Regions from separate parts of the Homo sapiens genome. Here region 1 is linked to region 2. Evidence: fine-mapped expression QTL. A gene starts in region 2. The other region holds a variant in brackets. All regions are shown on one strand. Distances are between the middles of the regions.

Region 1 (4,528 bases), 170 kb after region 2:
AAATACCAAGCCTAGCTCAAAGAGTTCAATTATTCATATTCACATTAATTATTTCAAAGATATCGATCGAGTGTGGTGGCTCATACCTATAATCCCAGCACTATGGGAGGCTAAAGCAGGAGAACTGCTTAAGGCCAGGAGTTTGAGACCAGCCTGGACAGCACAGTAAGATCCTATCTGTACAAAAATAAAAATAAAAAATTAGCCAGACACACTGGTGTGCCTGTATTGCTAGCTACTCAGGAGGCTGAAGCAGGAGGGTTGCTTGAGCCCAGGAGTTCAAGGCTGCAGTGAGCTATGATCACACCACTGCATTCTAGCCTGGGCAACAGGTGAGGTCATCTCAAAAAACAAACAAACAAAAATATTGACAACCTGATATGCCAAGCACAATACCTACTAATAAAATGGTGATGAGGACAGAACAGAAAAGACTCCTCATGGAGCACACAGTCTAAAGAAAAGTTAAGGTGGTCTCATCTGACACCTAAAAGATGAGCATAATTTAACCAAATGAGGTGGGACACTTGGCAGCCTCCTTACATGACTACAGAAACTCCTCAGAGATCTAGAATTATTCTTGCAGGGTCCCTGTGAAGAGGCCTTATCCTCTTCTCTCCACCTCATCCAGGATGAGTTTCAATGAGAGTAGAGAAGACTATAGAATCCTTACGTTATTCGGAGAACATAATAGAAGAGAAAACATATACCCTATGGAACTCTGGGAAATAGCATTTGCATTCATTCAGTCAGCCAGCCAATCAATCAATAAATATTCAGAGAGATCCTGTTGTGTGCCAGGCATACCTTTATAGGGTTGCTGTCGTTTTTTCTACACCACTAAAGCAAGGCAGCAATAGAGCCAAATGGCTTCAAGAAATGTCTGGGGCAGAGGATCCAAGAGTTCCCTAAGTCTCCAGCACCTCTAAAAGCTGTGGGAGATACACTGATCCTTCCCTCTTTCCCACATTTTTGTGAAACAGAAGTTAGCTCTAAAAGAGAGAGGAGAGTGGGAGTGAGAGCAAGAGAGAGAACAAGTGACCCCAAATGGGCTTGTAGTCATGACACAGGGGCAAGGCAGCAGGGAGCAGCGTGGAGGACCAAATGGAAGAATTGTGTATCTCAGGAGAGATCAGTGCAGGACAGGTAATGACCAAGGATAGATACTAACTCTCCTCTTCACTTGATTGAGACTGAAAACCTCACAGCTTAGATCAGCCCCAGGAAAAAGGAGAAATTAATGACTTGATGGAGCTTAGATCAGAAACAGAGCAAACTCAGAATTCACTTGGCTGGTAGTATTTATAACTGTGGAATAATAGAGTCTCTGAATGTGTATTTAGTAGAGCTACATAAAATAAAGCTACACAGGTATCTTTTTACACAACAAAGATACTTGAAAACACTGCAATCTGTACACAAGCTGGTATGTGTGCTTTTGTGTGTGTGTGTGTGTGTGTGTGTGTGTGTGTGTGTATTTTACAAGCATAACCAAATGTTCCTGAATATTGGAACCTTCAGAATAGTTACCTTGGGAGCCTCTACTTATGATGTTGTCATTTTTCACTCTTTCTTACACCTTCCGCATCATTTTATAAACCATACAAGAAGGTAAATTCTAGTAGTTTATATTGAGTCTCCATTTTTGATTACCAATTGTGGACAGAAGGAAAGAAGGAAGGAAGGAAGGAAGGAAGGGAGGGAGGGAGGGAGGGAGGGACTCAAATAATAGCTTTATTCACCAAACTTGGCACTTGTAGGCTTCTTGCAGTTCCCAAAACTCAACTGACAAATGTTTATTAGCTCTG[T/A]ATATATTAAAAGAATAAAAGCGATCCCAAAGGTATTTAAGCAATGGCTACTGTGTTGCAATACATGTACTGTTAAGATGACTATTCTGAATGAAAACACTCATTTGGATTTGTTAGTACATTTGTGGGAAAATAAGGAACAACTCAAAAACAGCCACATCACAGTCATGTGTATTTAGGGCAGCAGCAAACATCTCATCTGCGACTGCATGGTTATTTCCCTTGAAGTCTCCTGCTCTCTGTCACTGTCTCTATCTGCACTTTGCCTTCTATTTCTCCACACTTTGAAAGGAGCCTTTTCCAAGGGCCTGCAACATTGGGACTGTCATGCAAGAAGAGAGGACAGCTTAAGAGGGCCTGGGTCACGCAGCCCCTGCTGTCTCTTAAGCAGGTATCTTTGCACTTTTACAAGCATTACTCTTAATCTCATTTTTCATTCCCATCTTGCAACTTTATGCCTTCCTATTGATCTTAGTTCTGCTGCTTAGAGACACCAATGAGAAATGCTGAGAACATTCAATAAATAAAAAATATCCATCCCCCTGTACGTGATTCCTCTTTAAAAATTTGCGCAAGTAAAATAGTGTTATTTCTGCTCCCTGTTAGTTCTTCAGACTAAAAGTTTATGCCCTGAATGTGGAATTAACATTAGGGGATGGAAAAAAGGTATTCTAAATTTCAAATCCCAATCCTGGTTCTGAGGTCCGTTGTTGCCTTTGAGAAGCTGCCTTCTATAATTATTGATTACCTCATACATACTATAATTGAAGTCACATCTACAAAGATCTCAGTTTAGATTGTAGCATATGTGATTTTTCCAGAAAGAGACATGCATTTATTTGCATCACTTCTATTTTTTAAAATTGTTTAAATGAAAAAACACTCTTCTACACCACTTATTTTGCTAGTTTGGACTTAACAGAGGATCTTGGTAGATTGGTGCATATTTTATTTAAATGGCCTTTTGTTTAAAAAATACACAAAAACAACTTCAGAGGAGTTTTTATCAAACAGGTGAACCAACTCAGAGATTAAAAGTATATCCCTCATCTCTGTACTATGAAAAATTCAGGTAAGTACCATGAAGTAGAATGAAAAGAATCCTGACATAGCCATCAGGGGCTATGGGTTCTGATATTAGTTTCCCGAGCTATGCAGATTTTATTTTACTCCTCCATGTCCTAATTCTATAACCTGTGAAAATAAAGGGGCTGATCTCTTCACTGGCACTAATAATTTTATTATTATTATATCATGAATAAAGAGTGAATATACATTTTCACAAGCATCTTGTTCCATTTCCTGACAACTTTAGCTATCTCTTTTCCTCATTTCTGAGTTGCCTAAGAGGGTTAAAAATATCCTGTCCACGGGTAGCAGAATACTGAGGAGTAGATGCGAGGGGTTACACTATGAAGCTGTGGCAATTGGGCTCTTTTAAGTTCTAAGGGATTAAAAAAAATACAATCTAACCTGGTGTAAAGAAAAATGGAATTTATTGGTTCATGCCATTGAAAAGTACCATTCGGGCTGAATTGTGCCCCCCTCTCAAATTTATAGGCTGAAGCCCTAATCCTCCCTCATTCACAAGTATGTGATTATATTTGGAGATCAGGTCTTTAAGGAGATAATTAAAGTTAAATGAGGTTATATGGAGGGGCCCCAATGCCAACTGACTGGGGTGCTTAAAGAAGAGGAAACTTGGACACCCAGAGAGACATCAGAGGCACGCATGCGCAGAGAAACGACCATGGTAAGAGGTAGAAAGAAGGTAACCACCTGCAAACCAATGACAGAGGCCTCGGAGGAAACCAACCCTGCCAGAACTTTAAACCTTGGACTTCTAAGCCTCCAGAAGTGTGAAAAAGTAAATTTCTGTTGTTTAAGTCACCTATTCTGTGGTATTTTTTTATGGCAGCCCTAGCAAATCAATACAAGTCACTTGCAGAGCTGGCTGTAAAATTTGCAGAATCCAGTGAAAAATGAAAATGTGGTTCTCCAACTTCAAAAAGTAGGAGAAAAGTGTGACTCACGATACTGAAATATAAGGCTCTTTTTTCCTCCTGTGGTCTCACTCTTACTTGTAATGGTGGTTTTGTTGTGCGGGTTTTCTGGAGTTTAGGGATGATTTTGGTTTTGCTACTTAAGTGTTTCTACACAAAGAAAAACTAAAATTTTTAGTTATCAGCATGAGTTTTACCATTTATCCGTATATTGTGCAAAATCAGTTTTAAATGTAAATACAAGAGCTCTTAAGTCATGTGTAGAACACTAAAATTGCTGAATTTATATTTCATAGCTCATACATGCATCTGTACATATATGTATCATTTTTACCAGAATAGTGGAAAAGCTTCAAAAACTAACTCAACTGTGATGTTATTTCACTTCTTGATACACATTCTGCCAACACCCTCTATTCTACATTCATCAATGAGTGAAGAAAGACTTAAAAGGATAAGCAACTCTGGGTTTTTCTTTCTTTCTCTTTCCATCTGTGTCATTATTATTTCCAGTGTAAATGATTGAGTAATACGGCGAAGTGATATAAAAGAAAGGTTCTAACAGGGCTCTTTGGCCATTTGTTTTTCTTAAAATGTCATGGCCTTCTTTCTGCATTTGAAGCAAGTTCTGATTCTAAGGGAAAGCATGGCTTTCCAGGTTGTCAGCACACCACTGTCTCAGCCATCAACATACCTCGTACTCACTTTGAGTCACTG
Region 2 (4,000 bases):
GCCTGTAGTCCCAGCTACTCGGGAGGCTGAGGCAGGAGAATGGCGTGAACCCGGGAAGCGGAGTTTGCAGTGAGCTGAGATCGTGCCACTGCACTCCAGCCTGGGTGACAGTGCGAGACCCCGTCTCAAAAAAAAAAAAAAAAAAAGAAGCTCTGGGACCTGTTAAATGCTGTGTGTTTGGTAAATAAAAAACTTCCGACTTTGGCGCTGTTCTAGGCACTGAGGATTTTAGAATTTTCAAAAAGCTTTTGCATATTTTATCTCGCTTGACCCGAAAAATCCTGAGGTAGAGCAAATAATATTTTTTTCTACCTTTAGTATGTAAGGAAATTAAGGCCCAGAAAAGTAGTGAGTAATATGACCCAAATTCACAGTGGAGAGACCAAGACTGCAACTTAGTTTTCTCAAGTGTTTACCTCTGGGCTACCCACCATCAAGGCTAAGAATTCTCAACAGCTCTGGTCTTCTGGAGGCCTTTCCTTGTCAAATCTCATTCCTGTTTTCTACCCCTCCCCCCAAACCCCCGTACTATCTAGCAGAGAAGAATCTTCACTTCTCAGTTGAGGAACGCCCTTTCCCTTTACAGGCTTTTGGCCAAAATGAGCAAAGTTCTCTTCTCAGGATGAGGTGGCCAGCCTTTCTGCATCAATATTGTGAAACACATGAATAATCTGGGCACGCATCCCCAGGGCCATGACTCTGCAATTTTGTACCTTCTAAAACTAACAAACACTACACATGAGATAAAGAAAAAAGATAATTCGGTGGCCATGTTGCGGATACGTTAATCTGGAACTCTAGATGAATTCTAGCATTTCCTGAAGGCATCGTGGTGGCTGCAGACTCAGCCCACTATGTGGTCTCATGCAAAGTGGGGTTCAGAGCCCAGAGGCTGCAGGTGAAATGCTGGTGCCTCTCGGGAGAGTGGTGGGGTAAGGCCTTTCTCTGTGCTGACCTGACCTCCTTTTCCAATCTCAGGGATTCATAGACACCACTCTAAAACAAAGCGGTAGAAAAATTTTACTCGTCTGCCAGAGAGGGTAATATCCAAATTTGGACTGATTTGCCTTTTTTTTTTTTTTTTTTTTAATTACCAAAGATAATCGCACACATAGCCCTCTTATTTTGGAAACAGCAGAGGACAACAAAGTCCAGTACTATCCTAAGGCCAAGAAAAGCATATGCAAAAGGTAGGTGTAGGCTGGGACTCACAGCAGGCTGGGACCCCAGGAAAACTGGGCTTTAAGGATTGCTCACTGGAGGCCTGGGTGCTATACAGCAATGCTTGCGGGCACCCACTCAGCACTCACTGGGTAAGAAATTAGGGAGAAGAAATAGGGGAATATAAACGTGGAGCTCAGACTGCCACATTTCAAGAGAAGCAGAGAGACTAGAAGATTTACATGCACTCCTCTCTCCTCTGTCCCAAGCCAGCTAGAGCAATATATGACACCTTAATTCCCGAAAAAGAGAGTTCCCTTCTCCTTTTCTCCTTCCACATGGCTTCCTCCTCCAGACTGGGGAAGTGGGGCACAGGTGAGAACCGTCCCAAGGGGCTCACCCTTAGCTCTCTTGTCACTGGCTATAATATCACACAAAAATATTATCATCTAACCCACATCCTCTTGTTTCGATAGCTAGCATTATTAGCAGTAGTATTATTTAGTATTATTTTAAAACTTGCTGATGTTTCTCCTATCAAAGTGAACTCAGAAGAGCAAATCCTGCCTTACAATAGGCATAAAGGCCACTATGCCCATGAAACCTGAGACATCGCAGGCTTTTGCACTCTTGGGGAGAACAGCAGTCGTTCAAACTACAGGCATTTCCTCCATTACTACACGTGCCTTTTCCTCCTTCCCCAGAGTTCAAGGGACCCTTTCAAACAGGAGGTTACTTTGACTTGAAAAGGCTAAGTTTGGAAATCATCACTCAAGCATGAAAAGACTCTCTCGTTTCATTCCTGGAGTTTGAGAAATGGGAAAACTTACCCGCACGGGGACAGAAATACAATTCCCTTTCAAAAGCGATCGATTGAAAAGCTAAGTTTAGCTGCTAAGTGGAGCCAAGCACTTCCAGCTGGCAGAGACCCCCCCAAGTCTTCCATCTGCCACCCACCCTGGCCCTCCCTGCCTGCCACCCTTTGCATGCGGTCCCCTTCTCCCCTCCCAGTACGCACGGTGAGGCCGAGGAGGAGGAAGCAGCAAGCCTGTCCCGCCGCCGGGTCGCGCGCAATGCAGGGACTGTGGCCGCGCGGGCCGGACGCAGGCACCGCCCCTCTCCAGTTAATCTCCTGTTAATTAGCCCTCCCACGTTTAAAGCCCGACCCCAACCTCGCCAAACCCCTCCTCTAAATCACCTGATTTACCCGCCCACAGTAACCATCGCCTGCTGATTCCCTTTGAGCCCTTCTATTTGGCGCCCTTAGAAACTCTGGTTCCTGAAATGCCAACTCCCCTAATCAGTGGGAAGGGGGACAGTAGCCATTGTCTAGGAACTCTGAATTCTCGAACATTTCAGGATCAGCAGAGTTTTGGAAGTTGTTTTTAAAAACTTCGCAGAAAGTTAAAATCTCCAGGGTAGAACTAATTAGCAGGCATTGACAATATTACCTTCCCTTAGACTTCACCTCCCCTGCGCTGGTGGCAAGGCCTCCTTAAAAGGCTGACAATGACAGAATGTAACCCTCAGTAAAGATCACTTACGGTGTTCCAAATTCATGATACCAGACAATTTGCTTTGTCACGATGTCCCCTCCTGTTCAGGGTCCAGAATGAAATTGGAGGCAATTGTACTGGATCAGCTCATTACACAATCAGCTTAGTGTGTTTTTTACAGGGAGGTTTAGAGGAACGTTTACGGAAGCCGTAGATATTTAGCCTACCATCACTATCTAGATTAGGGATACTTCCAAGCTTCCTAGTCCCCATAGTCCCCACAATATTTATGGATCTATCTTTCATGGGTTTATATGAGAAATGTTTAAGGATTTCTGTTTTCAATCTATATTATTTCTCTCCTAGTGCTATATCTCAGACACTCACCACCTGTTGCAAGGTCTACTTCCTTTTTTTGCTCTTAATTTACTCCTTTAGGCTTTAAAGGATATCCCTAGGACTAACTTTCTAGGATGTGATGGACAAGTTCATGTTCTATTAAAGAAAGAAATAACTACCAGTTTGCTCTAGGAACAGAAATTAATCCAAGGAAGGTCTGAGAATGATTTCTATATAAGCATAACAGTAGGAGTTTTGGAAAATCTAGCATCAGAAGGCATCTGTTCTTCACTTTTATGTCTGTATCTTTTCAAAACTCTACTTATTCACCTATCTTTGTAAAGTATACTAGAATCTGTCTGTAACATTAACTGGAATAGGATAGAATTTGAGATGACATAAATCTATTCTGAATTCTCTCCAAAGGAGTTTGGTATTATAAGAATTTAAGACTCTCTTCATTTATTATAAGGTGATACAGGCCAAATCTTATGGATAACATGGCAGAAAAAGGAAGAGGAGAGCTACTGTTTAGATAATTTGGTCTACAGAATGCTAGTTGAATGGTTCTAACATTTTTTTTTTTTTTTTTTTGAGACGGAGTCTGCCTGTGTAGCCCAGGCTGGAGTGCAGTGGCGCGATCTCAGCTCACTGCAAGCTCCGCCTCCCGAGTTCACACCGTTATCCTGCCTCAGCATCCCAAGTAGCTGGGATCACAGGCACCTGCCATCACGCCTGGCTAATTTTTTGTATTTTTAGTAGAGACGGGGTTTCTCTGTGTTAGCCAGGATGGTCTTGATCTCCTGACCTCGTGATCCACCTGCCTCAGCCTCCCAAAGTGTTGGGATTACAGGCGTGAGCCACTGCGTCCAGCTGGTTCTAACATTTTTTTAAAAAAGAAAGTAGCACTTGACTCATCTAATGCTCTAAATATAGAATGTGTTCAAACTATTAATTGATCAATGAATAAATACTGAGTTCCTACTATCACTAAATCACGAACA

Which allele goes with the higher level. Alleles are on the strand shown, and positions count from the first base shown. SD is a standard deviation of normalised expression in the study named.
In carriers of allele A in region 1, the expression in prefrontal cortex of the gene that starts at base 2,245 in region 2 tends to be higher than with T alone (small effect, 0.37 SD a copy in CommonMind).

What was found. PIP is the estimated chance that this variant, and not a neighbour inherited with it, causes the effect. A credible set is the group of variants that fine-mapping cannot tell apart.
Region 1: its variant is the best candidate, but not a certain one, in a credible set for the expression of MGST1 in prefrontal cortex (CommonMind, PIP 0.52).

The regions. Positions count from the first base shown.
Region 1 is chr12:16,173,491-16,178,018 of GRCh38, reverse strand. The region is part of intron 1 of LOC101928362 (a long non-coding RNA gene); the gene reads right to left. Among named protein-coding and RNA genes, the nearest start is that of SLC15A5, 100 kb to the left of the region's middle. The variant T/A (reference allele first, on the strand shown) is at 1,809.
Region 2 is chr12:16,345,890-16,349,889 of GRCh38, reverse strand. It overlaps MGST1 (microsomal glutathione S-transferase 1), which reads right to left and starts at 2,245. Exons shown (of 4, transcript NM_020300.5): 1 at 2,180-2,245. RefSeq lists enhancers at 366-1,295, 2,226-3,155.